Linked DNA regions of Homo sapiens. The gene in region 3 interacts genetically with the main gene of each other region. Each region holds a gene or a part of one and is shown on either strand. Other genes may lie near its edges.

What was found.
Region 1: changes in MZT1 (region 3) and REXO2 together harm fitness less than expected from each alone (positive genetic interaction), as found in Homo sapiens cells (one large-scale study listed by BioGRID).
Region 2: changes in MZT1 (region 3) and GTF2E1 together harm fitness less than expected from each alone (positive genetic interaction), as found in Homo sapiens cells (one large-scale study listed by BioGRID).
Region 4: changes in MZT1 (region 3) and WDR7 together harm fitness less than expected from each alone (positive genetic interaction), as found in Homo sapiens cells (one large-scale study listed by BioGRID).
Region 5: changes in MZT1 (region 3) and UBA2 together harm fitness less than expected from each alone (positive genetic interaction), as found in Homo sapiens cells (one large-scale study listed by BioGRID).
Region 6: changes in MZT1 (region 3) and ERH together harm fitness less than expected from each alone (positive genetic interaction), as found in Homo sapiens cells (one large-scale study listed by BioGRID).
Region 7: changes in MZT1 (region 3) and SMC5 together harm fitness less than expected from each alone (positive genetic interaction), as found in Homo sapiens cells (one large-scale study listed by BioGRID).

The regions. Positions count from the first base shown.
Region 1 is NC_000011.10:114,445,967-114,449,466, forward strand, and holds part of REXO2 (oligoribonuclease, mitochondrial precursor), read left to right. Parts: intron 1-12; coding exon 13-121; intron 122-1,859; coding exon 1,860-1,913; intron 1,914-3,500. UniProt on the Homo sapiens protein: 3'-to-5'exoribonuclease that preferentially degrades DNA and RNA oligonucleotides composed of only two nucleotides. Binds and degrades longer oligonucleotides with a lower affinity.
Region 2 is NC_000003.12:120,773,744-120,777,243, forward strand, and holds part of GTF2E1 (general transcription factor IIE subunit 1), read left to right. Parts: intron 1-2,679; coding exon 2,680-2,921; intron 2,922-3,500.
Region 3 is NC_000013.11:72,707,867-72,710,629, forward strand, and holds the end of MZT1 (mitotic-spindle organizing protein 1), read right to left. Parts: intron 2,480-2,763; coding exon 2,456-2,479; 3' UTR 501-2,455; downstream 1-500. UniProt on the Homo sapiens protein: Required for the recruitment and the assembly of the gamma-tubulin ring complex (gTuRC) at the centrosome.
Region 4 is NC_000018.10:56,654,359-56,657,858, reverse strand, and holds part of WDR7 (WD repeat-containing protein 7), read right to left. Parts: intron 1-3,500.
Region 5 is NC_000019.10:34,441,881-34,445,380, reverse strand, and holds part of UBA2 (SUMO-activating enzyme subunit 2), read right to left. Parts: intron 1,538-3,500; coding exon 1,470-1,537; intron 382-1,469; coding exon 260-381; intron 1-259. UniProt on the Homo sapiens protein: The heterodimer acts as an E1 ligase for SUMO1, SUMO2, SUMO3, and probably SUMO4. It mediates ATP-dependent activation of SUMO proteins followed by formation of a thioester bond between a SUMO protein and a conserved active site cysteine residue on UBA2/SAE2.
Region 6 is NC_000014.9:69,381,300-69,384,799, reverse strand, and holds part of ERH (enhancer of rudimentary homolog), read left to right. Parts: intron 1-3,500. UniProt on the Homo sapiens protein: May have a role in the cell cycle.
Region 7 is NC_000009.12:70,265,478-70,268,977, reverse strand, and holds part of SMC5 (structural maintenance of chromosomes protein 5), read right to left. Parts: intron 1,056-3,500; coding exon 1,003-1,055; intron 360-1,002; exon of another isoform or gene 1-359. UniProt on the Homo sapiens protein: Core component of the SMC5-SMC6 complex, a complex involved in repair of DNA double-strand breaks by homologous recombination.

The DNA.
Region 1 (3,500 bases), on a different chromosome or scaffold from region 3:
GTGTCTTTCTAGGAAATTCAGTTCATGAAGATAAGAAGTTTCTTGACAAATACATGCCCCAGTTCATGAAACATCTTCATTATAGAATAATTGATGTGAGCACTGTTAAAGAACTGTGCAGGTAAGGGCTATATTTAGGATCCATTAAATTACCTCATTTAGCATGTTTTAATTGAGAATTTGTGGAAAGTAATTGGATAGAGCTGTAGAACTAAGGCTACCAAGTGGGTTCATATCTTCCTCATCCCATTCTTGCTTGTATAGGACCTTAACTTACCCTGGACTGGTGAGAATTGGGAGCAACAACGTCAGACATGTTCCCAGTAAATAAGCCAATGCCTGGCACAAAATAAGTGCTCAATACATTTTCTGGATTAACTAATATTATGTGGAAGTCTTGTGACTGGGAACATATAGATGAAAAGCTCTTAAGTACTTTAGAAAATAGTGGATCGACATATGTGTAAAAAAACGCACCCTGAAAATATACTCTATGATGACTCCTATAGTGAAAATGTGCGTATGGACTAGTGAGGTCACAAGGGAAGCAGCATCTAACTGTGCTGGAGCAAGAGGAATGGGGAGTCAGAGAAACCTTTACATAGCAAGGAAATAGCTTTGAAATTGAGATGTGAAGAAGAGTGGAAGTCTTGCAGGCATTTTATTGAGGAGAGAGCATTCAGAGAGAGCAGACAGAAGTATAAGAATGTGAGGGAGCAGGAAGCTAAGGCAAAATGTGTTAAATGAATCCCAAAGCATTCATTAATGCTGGAGTGCAAAGCATGAGGTTGGAGAAGGTGGGAGGTGGTTCTAGGGCCTCAAGAGCTTGCACACCATGCCAGTGAAGTTCACTATGATCTTGCAAGGAATGGGGTTCCTTTGAGAAAGTGTAGGTAGAAGAGTGAGTGATAACGATCGTTCTGATTCGAAGGTGGCAAGAAAAGTGGTAGAAAGATAGAAAGGAGGCTTTTTTTTTTTTTTTTTTTTTTTGAGACGGAGTCTCGTTCTGTCGCCCAGGCGGGAGTGCTGTGGCGCGATCTCCGCTCACTGCAAGCTCCGCCTTCCGGATTCACGCCATTCTCCTGCCTCAGCCTCCCGAGTAGCTGGGACTACAGGCGCCCGCCACTGCGCCCGGCTAATTTTTTGTATTTTTAGTAGAGACGGGGTTTCACCGTGGTCTCGATCTCCTGACCTCGTGATCCGCCTGCCTCGGCCTCCCAAAGTGCTGGGATTACAGGCGTGAGCCACCGCGCCCGGCCTGAAAGGAGGCTTTTCTGCCATCTTGGGGAGAAGAATGAACTGGAGAAAGGGCAGGGCATGGAAATGAGGGGCTTGTATGATAAAAATGTGAGAGGGTCAGTTGACAGACACTCAGTGTTCGAATGAGGTGGTGTGAAAAGGAAGAGGTATAATGTTATTCTGATGTTTGTAGTTTGAGCAGCTTTGGTGGATGATGGCAGTGTTCAAATAAAAAGGAGAAGAAGAAGAGTAGATATGGTGGATGGGGCAGGGGAGGTGTTGACAATGGTGGGTGTGTTTTGATGTATGTTGAATTAGAAGTGTCTGGTAGATTTTTAGATGGAGATATCTAGTGGGCAGTTGCATATCCATGACAGAAACTCTAGGGAGGGCTGGGCTGGATTTCCAGATTTAGCAATCTTACACACTGATGAGCTTGCTCATAGAAAATATATAGAAGAAAGAGAGGAGAGGGTAGAAGATAGAGGCCCCGGCAAAGAAGCAACTTGAGAATCATGACTCAAATGCCATTTTCAATGTTAATGGATTACTTGAAGGAGGTAATTGTTCAGTATATTTGAGACAGCTTCCTTTGAGAGTTCCATTTCTGCTGTGTATAGACGCTGGTATCCAGAAGAATATGAATTTGCACCAAAGAAGGCTGCTTCTCATAGGTAAGTTTGAGTTCTACCAAGCGTTTTCCAGTCTGACACACACTTAACTCCCAAATTCCTGACTGCTTGAAATAATGTCCCTTAACTCTTTTTTCTCGGGGAAAAGATAAAGTTCAACTAGCATAAACATAACATTCTTTTACTGTTAGGAATTCTGGTCAGGATTCCAGTGTTCCATTCTGAGAGGGTTATATAGCCTTTATTGCTGTTTCAAAACTCTTAGATAGCTTGGTTTATAGGAATGATGAAACAATCTGTAATCTTTCTAGTAATGAACCGTGTTAACTTTCTTCCCACAGAAGATATGGACTTGCAGCCTTTTGAAATTAGAACACTTTTTGTGTGCAATTCTATAATACAGTTGCCTACTTTGACACTTGTTATAGTTTTTCTGATTGTTTCTCTTATGTCTGTAGCCTTAGGTACAAGTAGACAAGGAATTTAAAGATCTTGTATATTCATGTGTCCTGTACTGGTTCTTTTCTTTTTGATTTTGTAGTCTTTCAGGAGAAACATGAAACCTGATGGGAGGTTTAGCAGCTGGCTTCTAAGGGTAGCATTTATTAAACCATTTACTGAACCCCTATGATGTACCTTGCACAGTTATAGGCAAATAGAGAAAGACCAATCCCTAAAGAGTCTGGCATTCTTACATTATTTTATTGAGTGTATGTAGACTGTAGCACAGGCATACAGGCCTAGACTACCTTATCTGACACAACTGGGGTATGTTTTGATTTCAGAATTTTTCAGATTTTAGAAAGGTGTTACTACATCTGTATTGTTTATTATCTTGTAGCATCCCTAACAAGGTTTGAGAAGCAGCCCATAATAAAACACATAGGTATTCTGCAGTGAAACGTGTATATTCACACCAAATGGCATAAGTAATGATGACTGTCAATAGCCTCACATTAAGATTGCTCAGGTTTTGCTACATAATAGGTTCTGTAAGTACTGTGGGTTTTCAGGTGTGTTTTGGATTTCAGTTTTGTGGATAAGATATTGTGTGCCTTTATTTAGCCAGAGGCTATAATTTTGGCAGCTTCGGCTCTGACATATATCCAAGTCCTGGAAAGAAAGCAGATGGTTGCCTTAGCCACACAAATAATTGTCATAAAACTCTTGCACTAAAATTTGTGCAGGGAATTCTCTAGAAGTGGCCCTTGGCCCATGATTCAGAGTTTATTGATTTACTTGCACACTGTTCTAATAATCTTGGTTACCTGATTTCTCAGAATACAACAGATGAGAAACAACATATTGGAAGAAAAGAAAGGCTCTTAGATGGAGGCAGGCTGCCACTGATTATAGCACAAATCACCATGAGAGAGGAGGTAGATCCTCTGGTATGGTTAGGTACTGTTTGATAATTGATGTTTATTATGATGACTGAGTCATGACTTATGTTCAAGTGTGTCAGTCTGTTTTGTTGAGGGACATCATCAAGTATTGGGCAATGTTTCTCAAACTGTGTTCCATGAACTGTTTATAAGTATTCTACAAATGTGGTCGATTAAGTTTTAGAAATACTAAAATTTATTAATTTTAGAAAATTAATAAATTAGAAATATAGGACAGCTTCCT
Region 2 (3,500 bases), on a different chromosome or scaffold from region 3:
AAAAAGATTCAAACATGAATTGTCATTTTTGTCATCTTCAATTAAAATTGTTCCAAATTTTAAAATTTGTTTGACTTATGGTCAAATGTCTGCTGCCTCAAACTAGAATAAAACCCATCTTGAATTTCTATGACAGAATACTAAAAACAAAAGACTTTTTAAAAGTACTCTTGTGTTAACATTTATTTTAATTCTGTTCTTTTCTCTCTAGCTTTCTTGTTTTTCTCAAAGTACTCCTCATACCTTCATAAGACAGTCTTTGTAGTCAATGCTAAAGATAGAGAATAGAGAAAAACTCTGTGTTCAGGATTATATATAAAGAGAAGCAGTAACCTCAGAGTGAGTGAGTCATTTAAGTCTGAATCAAGGAAAGATAAGGATGTGGTTGGCCAGATCAGAGAAATATGCCTATTCTGTCTCTCCCAGGTGGGTTTAGCTAACTCAGGGAGAAACATTTTGGGGTGGCAGATATATAGAGCAGGCTCAGCACATCAAGATGGGGATGTTGGCTGAGGATAGAAGAGGCATTGAAAGGAGTCAGAGAGACAAATGGGTGTGAGAGGAGAGGCCAGAATGTAGAATAAGCACAGAAACATAAAAAACCAGATCAGACCAAGAGAAAAGAGAAAGTAAAGTGAATGCTGAAGAAGAGAAAAGTTCGAAAAGCCAACCTATACAAAGTAAGCAGCATCATATTACAGTGAAGGCAGCCACATAGCCTTTAAAAGACCACACAGAACAGATAGAAGATAGAGAATGACTAGGGACAGTTAATGGTTAAATTGAGATGAACAAGAAATGATACACAAAGTAACATCAATGAATGCAGAAAGAAATAGCAGAGAGAAACCAGTTATGTGCAATTGTAGCATAAGACTTCAGAATATAGCAAAAAAAAAAAAAAAATAGATGGATTGGATATATTTACAGAGAGATGCCTCATAGGTCTAGACTTAGAGTGGAGAGCAAATAACTGGTAGAAAGTAGGAGCAGTGAGGAGGCAAAAGAAGTGATTGAGACATGGAACAGGTAGAACAGGCACCGGGAAGAAAAAGGCTGTGGGAGAAAGTGGTTTACAAAGTAGCCCTGGGCACAGAGGTGGAATAATGAAAAGTATGCAAACGCAGTACCTGGAAGGCATGGATTAAATGACTGGATCAGTGTGGACTGGGCAACTGGAGATAACATTATTTTTTTGTTGCACAAGTAGCATGGCCCTATAGATATCCAGAGGCAGGACAGGATAGGTGGGATGAGCTAAGCCCAAGTTTACCTCCAGAGGATGGTCAGAAACACAGTGTAATTTAGGGAAAGATGTGATGGGCTAATCAGATACACGGACACAGACCTCAGCTAAGTATGAGTTAGAAAACCCCAGTAGATAAGAAGTGGACCCAGAACAAGTGAAGAGTAAGGGAGTAAGCAGAGATGAAGTAAGACAAAAGTGAAGGCAAAATAGTGAATGGCTTAGGAGGAAAGACTAATGAAGTATTTATTAGATTCAGAATGAGTCGGGGCTCCACACAGGAGATAATTCAGGATCCATGGAAAAGAGTGAGAAAAACGGACGAAAAATAAAGGAGAAACGTGAGACCAGGTCAGTCATGGACACTGAAAGAAACACCCAAAAGGTTTGGAGTGAGCAGGCAGTTCAAGAAACATGAAGATGGTTACAGGATAAAAAATAGCTGGACAGAGCGGGAGGTGGAGAAGCATACGTAGAAGTTGAAGTGGAAAGCATCAGTAGCAGGCAGAGAAAGGCATGAGCTCAGACAGAGAATCAGGCATATTCGAAAGAATTTGGAACAGATTGAGAGTGAAACAGGCAGATAAAATGGGGAACCATCAGAAATACTGAAAACTTGGCCTAACACAGAGGTTGGGGGGAACTTAAGTGACTAGAAGATAAGGAAATGATCAGACATGGAACAGGCTAACAGACAAAGAAGATCGTGGGTGGTAAAAGTAAAAAGCAAAATAAAATAGACTGAGAAAAACAGACCATTGTTACTGCAGAGTAGAATCAGTGGTTGGAGATGGATACAGAGTATCAGCATAGATGTGGAGATAGAAACATACAACTACATAGAAAAGCAGCTAGTTTGTGCAGAGGGTTATACCTTACTGCATGAGTGGTGGGAGAAGAACGTTGGTTGAGGTCAGGCTTTGTAGAATAGTTTTCTAGCTTTTTCCATGATCAGCACACAAAAGAAAGGAAAAAGCACACAGAACCACTTTGAATTGTTCTGGGTTGAGCTGAGATAACATTTTTAAAAATACAATGTGTTTTGTTTTTGTTTTTTAAACAAAATACTGGGAGAGATTTTTGTCAGACTAGTGGCTTTAAGTAGATGATGTCACCATATCACTTTCTCCTTCTCCAAGTATTAATAGATTTATTGAAACATCTTAAATCTATAAAACCTCAGTCATTTATATACATCAGAGGATCCCATGTTTGAGGAACTTAAATATAAATATGATGTGTTTTTCTAACGCATACAACTTTTACCCTGAGGTATAGAAGCACTTTCTTGGAATTGTTAAAGCATGTGTGCATGATTGCTAGGTAGCATTTACATGTAGTATTTCAGTAATTGCCTCCCTAGCTGCCCTTCTTTTCCAACACCAAGACATTAATTTTTCTTCTTCCTGTACTCCTCTATTCTTTTTATATAGCAAGGACCATGCAGCAACTACTGCTGGAGCTGCTAGCCTAGCAGGTGGGCACCACCGGGAAGCATGGGCCACCAAAGGTCCTTCCTATGAAGACTTATACACTCAGAATGTTGTCATTAACATGGATGACCAAGAAGATCTTCATCGAGCCTCACTGGAAGGGAAATCTGCCAAAGAGAGGCCTATTTGGTTGAGAGAAAGCACTGTCCAAGGGGCATATGGTTCTGAAGATATGAAAGAAGGTAAGAGTAGAAGTCAGTAAAATGGATGTGTCTTAGGTTCTGTAGAACATGAACTTGGCTTAGTGGGAAACTGCCTGGGCAATTCTGGATCTGTTCTACAGAACAATTAATTGCATTATATTAGGAAGTAAGAAATTGAACAATAAGATAAAAACCAACTAGTATACTTCCATTGCCCTTCAACTTAGTGAAAATAACAAATAGCCTTTTAAATTTTCATTTTTAGATTTGAAAAATTGTCATCTTTTTATCTTAATTTCTTGGAAAAATGCTATCTGTTGTTTTCAAGGTAGCCATACTCACCTTTCCTTTAATCTTATATTACCCTGACTTATATGCATTTAATTTTTCTGAATTGGGAGCCAAAACTATACGCTACCCCAAACTTTATGTTTTCTCTTCATAAATACCAAGGAGTGTATGCTACCTGAAATAGATACAAAGAGACCACATGAATAAAGGATTGAGCATTCTCACAGTCCAAGACGGTTAGCAGAACTTTGTTCTAGAGGATTTTGGAAATTTCTGAGGCATAAAGGGTTAAGAATTGCATACTAATCTTCGGAAGTTAGAGAACTG
Region 3 (2,763 bases):
TTGGGATAAGAAAGTTCAAGAGATGGACAATAGTGATAGTTACAATACAATAAGAATATTCTGAATGTCACTGAACTATGAAACTTAAAAATGGTTAAAAAGGGCAGGGCATTGTAGCTCATGCCTATAATCCCAGCACTTTGGGAGGTTGAGGCAGGCAGATCATCTGAGGTCAGGAGTTTGAGACCAGCCTGGCCAACATGGTGAAGCCCCGCCTCTACTAAAAATACAAAAAATTAGCCAGGTATGGTGGCAGGTGCCTGTAATCCCAGCTACTCGGGAGGCTGAGGCAGGAGAATCATTTGAACCCAGGAGGCGGAGGCTGCATTGAGCCAAGATCATGCCAATGCACTCCAGCCTGGGTGACAGAGTGAGACTCCATCTCAAAAAAAAAAAAAAAAAAAGGTTAAAATGGTAAATTTTATGTTCTGTATCTTTTGTCCTATAGAAACACAAGTTGAATTAACAAAAGCATATATTAAAACAAAAGTACAGGCCAATACCACCAAAATGGTTTTATTTTTGTCATTGACAACAAGCACAACACTGCAATTGTATCATTATTTTGTTTAGTTTCTTAAATATTACTTAAGTATGCATTAAAAATATGTTTACATTTTAAAAATGTGACACTTTAAAGAAGTCCTCTGTAAACACGATCCCTTCTCAATATATTTTCCTGCTTTGTTTCATACATAAATAACTTAATCTACAAAGTCATAAATAATACTATCAACTCTTATGGCCTGGAAGTATATACAAATTTTGGAGTCTGACAAAAGTGTTCTTTATGATTTTATAAATAACACATAGTATTTGTAGTGTTGATTATAAATCAAATGACTTTTTACAAATTCCTACTGTCTCCTCAACCTGTTCTACCAGTAACAGATCTTCCAGTTTACTTGGTTGGTAAAGATGCCAGGCATTTAAAAAGTCAAAATGGTCAAAATTCTATATTAAAAAAAAAAAAAGGCAGAGAAGGTTGCTATTTAAATATTACCAAATCTTAATAAAACCACTTCAGCTTGTCTGAAAAACAAAAAATGCTAGTAAAGAGTGAATGCTTGTACAATCATATAAATGGTACTCAATAAAATCTAAAATTTAAGAAATAATAAAATCAGATGAAATCCATATTAGTTTTGCAAAAAAACTCCACTGAGATTCTATTACAGGAACAGAATCAATACTATTCTACATTTTCTAAAATTTATTTCTAATCTTCACTTTGATGAGTTAAAATTTTAAAGGCAAGAATAATGACAAACAAAACAATTCTGAAAAGCCATACTTATAATCCTTGACATCAAGATGTTAAAAAGGTTTTTTAAAAAAAGCCATACTTGAGATTCCTAATATAGAACATTTGATTGTTTAGTTTTGTTTAATGACTGGAAATCCTTATTTCTTCAAAAAATAGCAAGTATCCTTTGAAACACATCACCCATCTAATAAGATTGTTTAGTTTTGTTTAATGACTGGAAATCCTTATTTCTTCAAAAAATAGCAAGTATCTTTTGAAACACATCACCCATCTAATAATTTATTAAATAACCATTCAAGATTTATTAGGTAAGCACTAAAATTACTTTTATGTAATAAAAGTAAATAGGAATTTTGCATGTTTGTTGTTTCATTTTACAAATTTTTTTATTCCGTTATTTATAGGATATAAAACTTTAAGAAAACATTCTCAACTAACATTCTCATTAGATGTAAATGATTCAAATTACAAATAATACTAACCTAAGCATTGTCATTACTTTTAAAATCCAAGTTTCTCAAAGTTTGATTTTTTTACTCAATACAAAAATGACCTGGTTCACACTATTAGCTGCCCAACAAACTGTTTGAAAAACTAAATATTCTTTGTTCAAGAGTAGATTACAAGAAATGTTTTCCATGCTCTTATTTCAAAAAACAAGATTCTGATATACATAATGAATCTAAATAAAAATTCACAAGTGGTGGCTGAAATCCTGTCAACTTTCAGCCCAATACAATATAAATCCACAGTTATAATGCATAAACAATTCAAAATTAAAGTTTATAATGGAAATGTCAACAAGTCATAACTACTACACATTACTACTGATGGGTTCCACTATACTTCAACCTGGCACAGCAGATGTGCACATCTGATAGACAGACTGCTTAGAAAATTAAAGCTATCAGAGCTATAAATAAGGAATACATAAATATGAACATAGCAATGCCAAAGCATTAGAGCTGTTAAAAAAAGTGAATAAGATGTGATGTAAACACATCTGATAGTTCTCTCTGTAAGCCACTTTCCACTGATTTATAAAGCTATGGTTTTATAATTCTTTTAAAAAGTAAAATTTTTCTACACTGCTGCATGCAGTAATTTCATTGTACATTCTCAACTACAATGCAATCTTCAAACCCTCTTGCAGAGCTTGACATATCTCATCAGAATTTCTCCAGAAAGTCAGCTTGTCATATTTTCAGCAGCCTAGAACAAGAAAGTAAGATTCATTACAATAAAACCATGGAAAAAGAGGCATCATGAAGATAAATTTGTCAATACTGCACTGTCATTAACAAACAACTATTCCCCATAAAACAGAACCACTTTTATCACAGTAATGCAGTGCTTTTCATGTTTTGCTATACATCAGGACTACCTTTTGAATGTACAGTTAACAGTCCACAGGCTAACAGTGGAAAATAGTTATATCACCTAAAATAATAGTTAAGAGCACAAAAAACATACTGCTACTTGAAACATTAACCTAT
Region 4 (3,500 bases), on a different chromosome or scaffold from region 3:
ATGAATGTAATATATATGTTCCTTAATAGAAAGGAAGTAAAAATTTCCTTGGACTCACAAGGACTTTCTGAATGCAGTCATGATGTAGGATTTCTTCTTCCAACATAATTGTTTGTGTTCTTTTGTATTCAGCAAAGCAGCTTTAAGAATCAGATACAGACAAAGACAAACGAACCATATGGATGGAATTCAAATTGTAAGTTAACATTACTATCATAGTACCTGTCAGTGAGAACATGTCCTCTTATTGATGGCAGAATTTCACTGAGCTATCCATAGCTCTCAGCTGATTTTGCCTATGATCAATGGCATGCACATATGTAAGACTATTAATTCTTCAAAAAGTGCATGAATTAAATGGACAAAAATGAGAACAGAACCTACAAACCTCACTAACTCCATAATTTAATTGCCAGGCATGGTGGCTCACGCCTGTAATCCCAGCACTTCAGGAGGCCTAGGTGGGAGGATAACCTGAGGTCAGGAGTTTGAGACCAACCTGGTGAAACCCCATCTCTACTAAAAATACAAAAATTGGCCGGGTGTCCTGGCGGGCACCTGTAATCCCAGCTACTAGGGAGGCTGAGGCAGGAGAAACGCTTGAACTTGGGAGTTGGAGGTTGCAGTGAGCTGAGATCACACCACTGCACTCCAGCCTGGGCAACAGAGTGAGACTCCATCTAAAAAAAAAAAAAAAGTCCCAACAAATTAAAAAACTGTCACAGGGAGATGTAACAGATAAACCCAGGAATAAAGGCACTACATAGTTCCAGGCCTCACTCTACACGCACTAAAATTACTTCAAGATTTACACTATGAATTTTGATTTCTGTCTAGTAGAACACAAAAAGACAAAGGTAGATTATCAATATATGAAAATCAATAGCATTTTCTTGTATCAGCACTAATCTACTTAAAAAATAGTATACCATTCACAGTATTTTTATAAACTACAATATTTTACTCAAAGTCATAAGTGAAAGACCATTCCATGTTCTCAGATAAAATGTCCTAATATTATAAAGATATCAATTTTCCTCAAAATAAATCTGTAAGTCAAAGTTCTACTGGTATTGTTTTTAGAAACTCAAACTAACTCTAAAATACATAGGAAAGAATAAAAATACATAAATAGCTGAGCCAAACTTTGAAAATGGGCAAAGATGAGAGAAAGTGCTCTACCAGATATTTAACATCACTAGCTAATTTGGGAAATGCAAATTAAGACCACACTGAGATATCATCACACATCAGAACAGTTAAAAAAAAAAAAAATAGTGGCCGGGCGCAGTGGCTCACATCTATAATCCTAGCACTTTGGGAGGCTGAGGCGGGCAGATTGCCTGAGCTCAGGAGTTCGAGACCAGCTTGGGCAACATGGTAAAACCCCATCTCTACTAAAATGCAAAAAATTAACTAGGTGTGGTGGCATGCGCTTGTAGTCCCAGCTACTCGGGAGGCTGAGGCAGGAGAATTGCTTGAATCTGGGAGGCGGAGGTTGCACTGAGCCAAGATTGCGCCACTGCACTCCAGCCTGGGTGACAGAGCAAGACTCCATCTCCAAAAAAAAAAAAAAAAACAGTGACAGTATCAAATGCTAGTGGAAGACGATGCAAAGAAATGCAATCTCTCATACATTCCTGGTAGAAATGTAAAATGGTACAACCACTCCAGAAAACACTTTGGGAGTTACTTCAAAAACTAAACATACACTTACCATACCATCCAGCAACCATGTCCCTGGGCATTTATCCCCCAAAAAATGAAAATTTAAATCCATACGCACACACACACACAAAACTGTACAAGAATGTTCACAGCAGCTTTATCTGTAACAGCCAAAAATTAAAAACAGCCCAGATATGCAGGTGAATGGTTAAACTTGGATACATACGTACCATGGAATACTACTCAACAATTAAGAAGTACAAACTATTGATAAATGCAACAATTTGGATGAACCTCAAGAACTGTCTCATTCAACAATGTTGATGAATCTCAAGAACTGTCTCATTCAACAATTTGGATGAATCTCAATTTCAAAAGATTACATGCTATAGGATTCCATTTATATAGCACTCTGGTAATGACAAAATTATAGAGATAGAAACTGATTAAACTGATTAAGGGATGGTGAGGGTAAGGGAGGTGGATGAAACTAGAAAGAGGTAACATGAAGAAAATCTTTGTAGTGATAGAATAGTTCCATATCTTCTTCCTCTTTTTTTTTTTTTTTTTTTGAGACAGGGTCTTACTCTGTCCCAGGCTAGAGTGCAGTGGCATAATCACAGCTCACTGCAGCTTCAACCTTCCCAGGCTTAGGTGATCCTCCCACCTCAGCCCCCCAAGTAGCTGGGACTACAGGCATGCACAACCACACCAGACTAATTTTCGTATTTTTTGCCAGAGACGGGGTTTTGACATGTTGCTGGTCTCAAACTCCTGGGCTCAAGCAATCTGCCTACCTCAGCCTCCCAAAGTGCTGGGACTACGGGCATGGTCAACCACATCAGCCTAGCTCTGTATCTTGATTGCAGAGGTAGTTGCAGGAATCCACACAGGTGATAAAATGGCACAGAACTATACACAGGCATTGTACAAAATCAATTTATTGGTTTTGATACTGTACTACAGTGGTATAAATTGTAACTATTGAGGGAAGTTCCTTGGGTGAAGCTGCATAAAATGTAACCACTGGAGGAAACCAGACCTCTCTTTACTATTTGTGCAACTTCCTATGAACCTATAATTATATCAAAATAAAGTTAAAACAAAATAAATGGGAAGAGTTATTTATATAGGAGGAAAAAACATACTACTACAAAACCATAGAGTTAAAACAGTATAGTGTTAGAGCAAGAACAGACAAACCAAAGGAAAGGACTCAATATTCAGAGTATATATGAGCACTTAATACACAGTGTGACACCATATCTATGGGAAAAGGGAAGAAAGATGCCAGGAAAACTGGCACAGTACATGGAAAATAAACTGGATCACAAACTTGTGACACATAAAAAGTTAAACTCTGCATGTATTAAAGACCAATAAGTTTAAAAGAAAACTATGAATTAGCAGTACATAACATAGCAGAGTAACTTTGTGGCACAGCACTGGGGAAAGATTTCTTAAACAAAACCTCCAAAATACAACCATATAGCCAAAAGATTTTTTAATTTGATTATATCAAAATATAAGATTTCTGTTCAATGAAGAACATCATGAGAAAGATTACAGACAAATGACAGATTAGGAACAGATACACTTGTAATACTTAAATGATTAGTATCTATGGAATACAAGAAATGTCCGCAAATCAACAAGAAAGAACTGAAACCCCAAAATAAAAATGGGTGAAGGGATGAACAGGCAATTTCACAAACAAAAAATTAAAAAAGATAAAACACACATGAAGAAATACTCAGATTCGGCAGGGCACGCTGGCTCATGCCTGTAATCCCAGCACTTTGGGAGGCTGAGGCAGGCAGATCACAAGGTCA
Region 5 (3,500 bases), on a different chromosome or scaffold from region 3:
AAAGACAACCAAGAAGGTATACAAGCCACCTCTCATTTTACCTCCTATTTAGATGTTATACTGATAGATTTAGTGTAGATGGTAACATTTTAAAACTTGCATATCCTGACTGCATCAATCATTTTATTAGGACATCACAAGGCATATACATAGAAGCTTAATTCAATTTTATGGACTATTTTAAAACAAGCAGAACTAGAACAATACATCTATGCACAACAATACATCTATCCATGATTATAAAAAAAGTAAATCTAACCTTGGTAAAAAGTTTAACTGGATCATATCCAGTTGATTTAGCCCATTCCTTAGTAGAAATACGTTTAATGTCACCATCTTCATTAGATGCTCTAGCTCTGGCTTCGGCTTCCGTTGGTTCCCCTATAAAACGATCATTATTTTATTTTCAACCGTAATAAATGTAGAACTGAACTCTTTTCACTCACCTTTGGGAATAAAAAGAAAGTCACTCATGGAAATCCCCAAATGCAACACATTCTGAGTTCAAGGAATAAGAAAATAACACATTCATCAGCATCTTTTTGTATCCCAGTTTCTTTCTTTCTTGTTTTTGGAGACAAAGTCTCACTCTGTTGCCCAGGCTGGAGTGCAGTGTTAAGATCTCGGCTCACTGTAGCTTCTACCTCTTGGGCTCAAGCCATCTTCCCGTCTCAACCTCACAAGTAGTTGGGACTACAGGTATGCACCACCATGCCTGGCTAATTTTTATATTTTTTGTAGAGACAGGGTTTTGCCATGTTGGCCAGGCTGGTCTCAAACTCCTGACCTCATGCAATCCAGCTGCTTCAGCCTCCCAAAATGCTGGGACTACGGGCGTGAGCCACCTTGCCTGGCCTGTTGTAACTTAGTTTCTGAAAGCTACACATATAACAGTTCAAAGCACAGACCAGTCATGAGATCTAGGAACAACTCGCAGCTCTATTTACTAGACTTGTGAAATTTCTCTTAACCTTGATTTCCTCATCAGTAAAACGGAATCATATTTTTTTTGTAAAACATTGTTTTGGATAGGCACGGTTGCTTACGCCTGTCCCAGCACTTTGGGAGGCCAAGGCGGGTGGATCACCTCAGGTCAAGAGTTCGAGACCAGCCTGGCTAACATGGTGAAACCCTGTCTCTACTAAATATACAAAAATTAGCTGGGCGCGGTGGCAGGTGCCTGTAATCCCAGCTACTCAGGAGCCTGAGGCAGGAGAATCATTTGAACCCAGAAGGCGGAGGTTGCAGTGAGCCGAGATTATACCATTGTACTCCAGCCTGGGCAATAAGAGAGAAACTCCACCTCTGAGACAAAAAAAAAAAAAAAAAAAAAAAACAAAAAAAAAACACATGTTAAACACACATTACCTAGCACATATAGCAATTTTTTTCCCTTAAGCTACCAAAATTAAATCAACAAAATAAAGATAATAGTATCTGATAAAACATATGCCAAATAATTTACTCACAGGCAGCTTCAGGGTCAGCTCTGTCAGGAGATACTTCTTGATCAGCATCTTCTTCCCCAAACAACTGGCTATAATTTAAGAATAGTAAATACTTCTGTATAACAAAGCATTCTAAACAAACATGTAATTTAGAATATTCCAAATATTTAGCAGAGATAAAGACTGAACAACTGGCTGGGCGCAGTGGCTCACACCTTTAATCCCAACATTTTGGGAGGCTGAGGCAGGCAGATCACAAAGTCAGGAGTTCGAGACCAGCCTGACCAACATGGTGAAACCTCGTCTCTACCAAAAATATAAAAATTAGCCAGGCGTGGTAGCGCACGCCTGTAATCCCAGCTACTCGGGAAGCTGAGGCAGGAGAATCGCTTGAACCCAGGAGATGGAGGTTGCAGTGAGCCGAGACTGCACAACTGCACTCCGGCCTGGGCAACAGAGCAAGACTCCGTCTCAAAAAAAAAAAAAAAAAAGTGAATAACGGATAAATGACTATAAACTTAAAAGTTTAACACAATGTGCTTGGACAGCTTGCATCCCAATTTCAACAGCAATGTAAGCAAGGTTAAATTTTAGCAGACCTACATCCATTCCTATCAGCGAGGCTCTGCACATTTCAATGTTAAAACCTCTGCTCAAGAAACAGGTGAGTGGTTTTCACTTACAACCTGGATAACATTCTAACACCAGAATAATGTTTGTGTTTACACCTGCAGCTACCTGTTCAACAAACATTATTATATACCTCAGGTGCAGAGTCCCCATCTAGGGGATAGAAATTCAGCAATGAACAAGATTAACTTTTTTTCATGGTAGAATGGCTCTTTACTGCTGAACAGAGTGTTAACAAACAATTTGAAAGTATTAAGCTGAGATTCTCTTTTATTAATAAAGTTATCCTAAAAACTGTTTAATAACTCATGGATATAAAAGTTTCCAGTATTTCCTCAAGTATATGATTAATGAAAGTTATCTTACAGAAATCCTTTGTACAACCCCCCACCCAACTATAATTTCAAAGCTCTGATAGTCACTCCCAACAATGGCATGTTAACACTTCCTAAAATTAACGCTTTGCCAACTAGTGAGTGCAAAATAGTAGACAGCCGCTAATTTAAAATGGTCCACCAATGATTTTTCACCTTTACAACAGGTTTATTGAGGTTATATTAAAATGCATTTTTGGCTGGGCGTGGTGGCTCACATGTGTAATCCCAACACTTTGGGAGGCCGAGGCGGGTGGATCAACCGAAGTCAGGAGTTTGAGACCAGCCTGGCCAACAAGGTGAAACCCTGTATCTACTAAAATACAAATATTAGCTGGGCGTGGTGGCAGACGCCTGTAATCCCAGCCACTCGAGAGGCTGAGCAGGAGAATCGCTTGAACCCAGGAGGCAGAGATTGCAGTTGCACTGCACTCCAGCCTGGGCAACAAGAGCGAAACTCCATCTCAAAAAAACAACAACAAAAAAAGCATCATTTTTTACTTAATGGTATTTTTTATTTATGATGAGTTTATCGGGAAGTATCTGAGAAGCATCTGTAGCTTACTATGGTCTTATACTTAATTTTCCAAGTAAGTCTTATGATTAAAACATAACTTGCTTATTGCTTATTTAGGTTTCCCTTCGAGTGAAAAATGCTGCTCATATTAATTTTGCCAGATTATCTTTTTTGTGTGTGTGACAGGGTCTTACTGTCCCCAAGGCTAGTGTGCAGTGGTGTGATCACAGCTCACTGCAGCCTCGACCTCCTAGGCTCAAGTGATCCTCTCACCTCAGCCTCCCAAGTAGCTGGGACCACAGGCATGTGCCACCATGCCTTGCTAATTTTTAAATTTTTTGTAGTGATGGGGTTTCACTATGTTGCCCACACTGCTCTCAAACTGCTGGGCTCAAGCAATCCTCCTGCCTTGGCCTCCTAAAGAGCCGGGATTACAGGTGTGTGTCACTGCACCTGGCCACATTATCTTTTTTTTTTTTTTGTCTTTTTCTGAGACACAGTCTCGCTCTGTCCCCCAGGTTGGAGTGCAGT
Region 6 (3,500 bases), on a different chromosome or scaffold from region 3:
AGTTGCTTTGTGTTTGTTCACTGCTGCATCTCTGGTACATAATTAGTGCTGAGTAAATATTGGTTATATAAATGCACGTCACTTGTGTTGTTATTTGAGGAATAGCTTTCTAAAATTATTGATAATTTTCTATTTCCCTTATTTATATTACAGAGCTATATTCTGCATTGATTAAAAATTAATGGTTGTCTTTATGGTTTTATAAAAGAACCTTACTGAAACATTCAGGATGTAATCCTGACGCTTTTGGGATGTCATACTTACTCCCAGTAAGTGGGAAGTAAACTTGAAGCAAAGGATCATGTTTTACTTGTCTTGGGAGGCTGTGGTTAAGAGCTAGCTGGAGTGGCAGAATTAGACATAGCTGGGTTTGAATCCTGGGTCTACCATTTGCTAGCTCCCTTTGACAAGGCAGCTTTGTATTGCTAAACTTTAGTTTGCTAATTTGTAAAATTCAGACAAATCTAGTTCATAAGACTCCTTGTGAGGATCAAGTGCTTGCTGAGCACAGCATTATTAGATATGCAGCAACTCCCTTTTCAACTAGATTGAAGAAGTCAGGATAGAGTTTTATTTTTAATTACAAGCATGTTCTTAAATTTGCCAGGAGTAGAATGATATGAATTTTAATGTCTACGTGTGAGATAAATTATAAATTTCAAGGGAGATTTAAAAGGTGTTGAGGTTTTTTCAACAATATGAAAATTGAGCAGAGTAAAACAGTTACAAGTGACATGTTAATGATATACAAGTATGTCATTAATGACATAACATAACTTTTCTAACTTTGTACTAGACTTTATAAAAAAAAAATTTTAGAGACAGGGTCTTGCTATATTACCCAGGCTGGTCTCAAACTCCTGGGCTCAAGTGATCCTCCTTCCTCAGCCTCCCCAAGGAGTGATATTACAGGCATGAGCAACTGTGCCCGGCTGCATTAGACTTTAAAATGTAAACTAGAAACCATATCTAGCATACTAAACTGATTTTTAATACAATATTTGCTATATTAAAGCAACATAGGGGGAAAGCTTTAATTATTACCTAGATAATTCTTCCCACCTACAGTATTTCCAGAAATATAGAAGAGAGGTTAATGATAATTTATGGTTTTTTAGTAGTTTCAGAGTGTTAAAAACCGTAAATTATCATAGCTTGAAAACCTGTAACTATTTGTTTGTTTCTAATGTTGAAAATTTTTTGGCCTCTGAAAAACTTTCAGAATCAAATTTAGGATTTAAAACTATTTTCCCCAGGTGACTTTGGTTATGTCCTTTTTGTTCTTTGAATATTCAGGAGAAATAAGGTATTGTTTCCAAAGAGGTAACCCACTGCCACAGCACATCCTGTGATTTGGGCCGTTACTCCTCAGACCAGAGACTGGGTCCGTTTTTGGTTTGTAGATGGTTGTGTGCTCATAGTTTCTATTAAATTTACATGGCAGTGACCTAGGACTTTTTTAAATTAATTCTTTTTAAACAGCGTAGGTGGAAATGGAATAAATAAGATTCTACTTTGTAACATGACTAAACCCAGAGCAAACTGACCATGCATTAATAATAAAATGTAGGCATGAAAATTTGTATTTCGTATACTTAAAGTCAGAGTCAGATTTTTCCAGTTTTCTGATCTGTATGTTTTTTAAATAAGCTTTTTGTAAGATGAAAATAATGCCCTTTTGATTATGCAGTATTTTCTTGTTTGCTTAGAGACATAAAGAACATTTAAACTGTCAGTTATTATAATGACAAGAGGTATTCCTGATCAGTAAGAGAAGTTATCACTGAAGACATTTCTGATTTCACTGCCCAGACCCACAGCTTCTGTTCTTATATAAACCTACATTCATTGACCATAACAATAGGTTAAAAGATTCATCTGTGCCAATGACTAGGCATTTTATTAAAGTATTTAACATTTAATTGTCTCATTTTCAAGTGCCAGTTAACAGCCATCGACACACAGCTTTCCATAAAGAAGGCATTATTGCTTTTTTTTTTTTTTTCTTTTGGAGATAGAGTCTTGCACTGTCGCCAGGGTTCAAGCGATTCTCCTGCCTCAGCCTCCCGAGTAGCTGGGACTACAGGTGCGCGCCACCACGCCCAGCTAATTTTTGTATTTTTTTTTTTTGGTGGAGACGGGGTTTCACAATGTTGGTCAGGATGGTCTTGATCTCTTGACATTGTGGCCCGCCTGCCTCAGCCTCCCAAAGTGCTGGGATTACAGGCATGAGCCACTGGCACCTGGCCTACTATTTGATGAGTTGGAAAATTGCATGCAAGTTGATGGATTCCTTAATGTTCACAAACCAGAGTGATTTTTGTTGGGGGGAATGGTATAAACAAAGCCTGTCCCACCCAGATATGATAATTGTGAGAAATTTTGTTCCTTTTTAAGTTATTTTCCAGTGTTAATATAAATGTTATAGTCTCTTCTGCTACATTTTGCAGTAGACTAGCTTAGAGCTTATTTAATTAGGAAGCATGGACAAAGAGTTTTCAGAAAAAATTAAATTTTAGAATTTTTAAATTTGGTTAAGCATTTTTAAAAATGGGAATCTTGTACATTTTTAATAAACCAGATTGTGACCTTACTGTTCAGAGGAAGAATATGATGTTAATTGTATAAAGCATTCCTACTTTGGAATTTATTTCCCTTGCCAAAAATTGTAGTTTAGGTTTCTAACTTAGTGATTAACAGTGAGGACTCTGGAGTCAGGAGTATTTAAAATCTATCTCCAGTCCAGCATTACCTAGCTAATAACTTGCTTCACTTTTTAAAGCCTTGGTTTCTCATTTATGAAAAAGGAGGCCAGGTGCGGTGGCTCACGCCTGTAATCCCAGCACTTTGGGCGGCCGAGGCGGCTGGATCACTTGAGGGTCAGGAGTTCAAGACCAACCTGGCCAACATAGTGAAACCTGGTCTCTACTAAAAATACAAAACATTAGCTGGACGTGGTGGCACACACCTATAGTCTTACCTACTCAGGAGGCTGAGGCAGGAGAATCATGTGAACCCAGGTGGCAGAGGTTGCAGTGAGCCAAGATGGCACCACTGCACTCCAGACTGAGTTACAGAGTGAGATTCTGTCTCAAAAAAAAGCAGGGGTCGGTGGTGGGGGTGGTGGGAAGTGAGGATAATTGTACCTACTCACAGGGTTGTAAAAATGAGTTAATTCAGATAAGAATTTAAAGCGACACCCAGTACTCTGTGACATCTTACTAGATACTACTCACAGTCCCATTGGAGTTTTACTGCTAATGCTAGTCTGTGTACTCCTTTTCGTTCTGATTAGAGATATTTTGGAGCTTACTGTATCTTCTGATAATTCTTCTCCATAGGCCTCTAGCATTATTTATTTTAAAAAGCAAATCCTAAAATATAGGTTTAAGATTTCCTTAATACTTTACAGGGGGAAGGAAATTAGCAAGAAATCTTTGTTGCCAGTACATGTTTTTTAAAGGTTTTTTAGTTAATTCAGAATAAACATTGCAAATCTA
Region 7 (3,500 bases), on a different chromosome or scaffold from region 3:
TAAATAATGTGCATATTTATGTGTAAAGGATTAAAATTATATATACCAAGGATGGTCAACTGGTTTCATCATAAACATCAACTCTAGTCTATCAAAAATAGCTGCCAAGAATGGCCAATTGAGAATATCCAAGCTCAAGGGAAAAGAATACTATGATGAATTATTGGTGTCATAAGGGAGAAAATAAAAAATGGTGACAGAAGTACCAAGTCCTTGTCATACATGAGATTCATCAAACTATTAGCAGTAGTTATTTATAGAATTAGGAATGATGGCAAGAAGGCTTTTATTTTCAACATTATACACTTCTACATTGTTTGCGTTTTTTAAAGACAAGCAAGTATTACTTTCAAGATCAGCAAAAAAAAAAAAACCCAGATACTTTAAATTTGTGAAAAATATTGCAACTTCATCATGACTACTTAATAGTAGTATAGTTCTATTTCATTACCTGCTATAAACTTATCATTTCCTTGATAATTTTTTAAAATAAAATTCTCACAAGTTTTTTTTTTGGGGGGGGCAGGGGGCATGGGCAGAGTCTAGCTCTGTCTCCCAGGCTGGAGTGCAGTGGCGCCATCTCGGCTCACTGCAACCTTTGCCTCCCAGGTTCCAGCAATTCTCCTGCCTCAGACTCCCCAGTAGCTGGGATTACAGGCATGTGCCACCATGCCTGGATAATTTTTCTATTTTTAGTAGAGACGGGGCTTCCTCATGTTGGTCAGGCTGGTCTCCAACTCCTGATCTCAGGTGATCTGCCCACCTCGGCCTCCCCAAAGTGCTCAGATTACAGGCATGAGCCACCATGGCTAGCCTACAATTTAAGTTTTTAAAATATATTTTTTAAACCCCTTACTTATCTGGATTAAGTATTCTTTAAATATTATTTCCAATATTTATGCCATAATACTATATTAATACTCTTTTCTAATCATCAGGAAAACATGAATATAAACTAAGAATTTTATAGGAAAAAGGAGTTTTAGCACTTTTAACACTTACAATTCAATTTCAACCATGCCTCTAGAACATCCTCTCTTCACAAAAAACCCAACCTAAGACATAAAAAAGAAAAAGTGAGCTGTGTAGTGACATTCCCAGGTTAACAATCAGAGATTTAGCAGTCATTATTATTTGTCAAATCAAGATTTTTTTCAGGTACCACTTGTATGTTCGCTCCTGTCACTTTCTAAGGTATCTCTCCCAGATCTGGGTTCCTCCATTGTTCCCTCCCACAAATAACAACAATAATAATATTAGGTAAGATTTATCGAACTCCTATGCACTCCATAGCCTCTTACCAACCTCGTGACAAAGCCAGTAAGTGCCAGAAAAACGATCTGAACCCAGGAAATCTTGGCTCCAGAGCCTGTGTACTTGTCCACTATATTAAACACCCAGACAGAAGAGAAAATGCCTGTGGGAAAACAGGTCCTATAGTATAACCACTAAGCACTCAAAGCTTCTTATTACCATTGAAGACTTCCTACAGTCGCGCAGGTTAAATATTAACAACCACGCTAATATTACCTATCCTGTTAATGATATAATTGCCACCAAGCATCGTTCTAAAAGGAGCAATATAATTGAAATTTACATGATAAAGCAGACATATCTGTGCTAGTTTCTATATGCTTATGAGTCTAAGTCCGAAAACAAAGTCTGAGCCTAAAAAAATCAGACTGGATCTTAAATCAGGCTATAAATAAGTGATAAATATTAAAAAAGGTAGAAAATATACCTCACAAATAGTAATCTTTTTAATAGTGATAATGACAGTGATGACAACAGCTAACATTTATCAAGCATTTACTATATACTGTTGTGCTAAGCACTAAACATGTATTTTTCTCATTTAATACTCATAAGCAACCTTGAAGTATACATTCATTTTATAGACAATAAAGCTGAGTCCCAGAAAGATGGGAGAAAAAAAAAAAAAAAAGCCTTATCTTGTAACCACCAAGTACAGCCTAATGCTTAAAAGTACAGGTTTTAACATCTACTATCTAGGTTCAAATCTCAACTCCACCACATACAAGTTGTTAAACATTGGACAGTTACTTAACCTCTCTGTTTCCTCACAGGAAAACCAAGGACATCCATGTAGGAATGACATCTGCTCATTAGCTTGCAAGAATTAAAAGACTTGGTACCAATGAGGAGGAAACAAAAATCAGGAGGCAGTTCTTATTATAAAGTATCCATACAGATGGTGTAGAGTATGTTTTTGTTAAATTTTTATATTAGCATTTAAACAAAAATACATTAAATATTCTTGCTGAGAACTTGGGCATCCCATAAATACATCTGTGTACCCAAAGGGCTGCAATCTGTCATCTAGGAAACACTGCACTCCACAGCCTCCCTTAAAAATCCTATCACTCAAGGATGAGATGTGTTTTCATGACAAAAATCAACATGAGAAAGTTAGTAAAAATTGTTATAGCCAATTCAGTCCTACTGTACAGCCCCTGGAGTACAATCCAACAGACGATTACAAAGAGATAGGGATTAAATGATCTGACAATTAAAAAACTATATATCAATATTCATAAAAATCTGAGTTGGTCCTTGGATGCTATCTGTTCCAACTCTCTCATCTTTGAAATGAAGAAAAACTGAAGTCCAGATAATTGCTCAAGGTCACAAGGCTAGTTATTAACAGAGAAAAGTATCTTCTACCTGATAAATGTCTTCCATATAGCACTAAACACACACACACACATTTTAAATAATTTATAATCTTAAGGGGAATTTGCTTCCATTTTGTAACCATCCATTAACTTTTAATTTTTTTTTTATTATTTCTATCTTAATAGAAATAGGATATGGTCTACGTGGTGTCCATTTTTTGAAATTTTTTGATACTTGCTTTATGACTCAGTATACAATTAACTTTTAGAAATGTTAACTTGTGCTTGAAAAGAATGCATACTCTCCAGTTGTTGAGTGCACTTTTTATAATATGTCCATTAGTTCAAGCTTAACTTCATTGTTCAAATCTTTTGTAGTCTAATTTTTTTATCTGACTGGTCTACTATTATTGATAGCTCTCCCAGTATGATTATGGATATGTTAACTGCTTGTTAGCATTCTGCAGATTTTGCCTATATATTTTGGAGCTAGATTATAATGTGAATTTGAGTTGGGAATCGAATTATCTTCCAGTGAATTAAAACTTTCGTCAGTGTTTAATGACCACTATTATCTATAAAATACTTTTTGCTCTAAAGTCTGTTTTTCCTAGTATTAATGCAGCTACATCTACTTTCTTTTGCATATTTGCCTGGCATGTATTTTTTTTCATCCTTTCACTCTCAACTTTTCTGTAGCACTTTATTTTAGATATGCTTATTAAAAACAAAAGAGAACTAAACATTGTTTCATTTCTCCATTCTAACAGACTTTATAATTTAATGAGAGTTTAGAGTTTAGATCATTTATAATCATTGTGATTATATCTGCACATATTTCTACCATCTTATTTTGTGATTTTT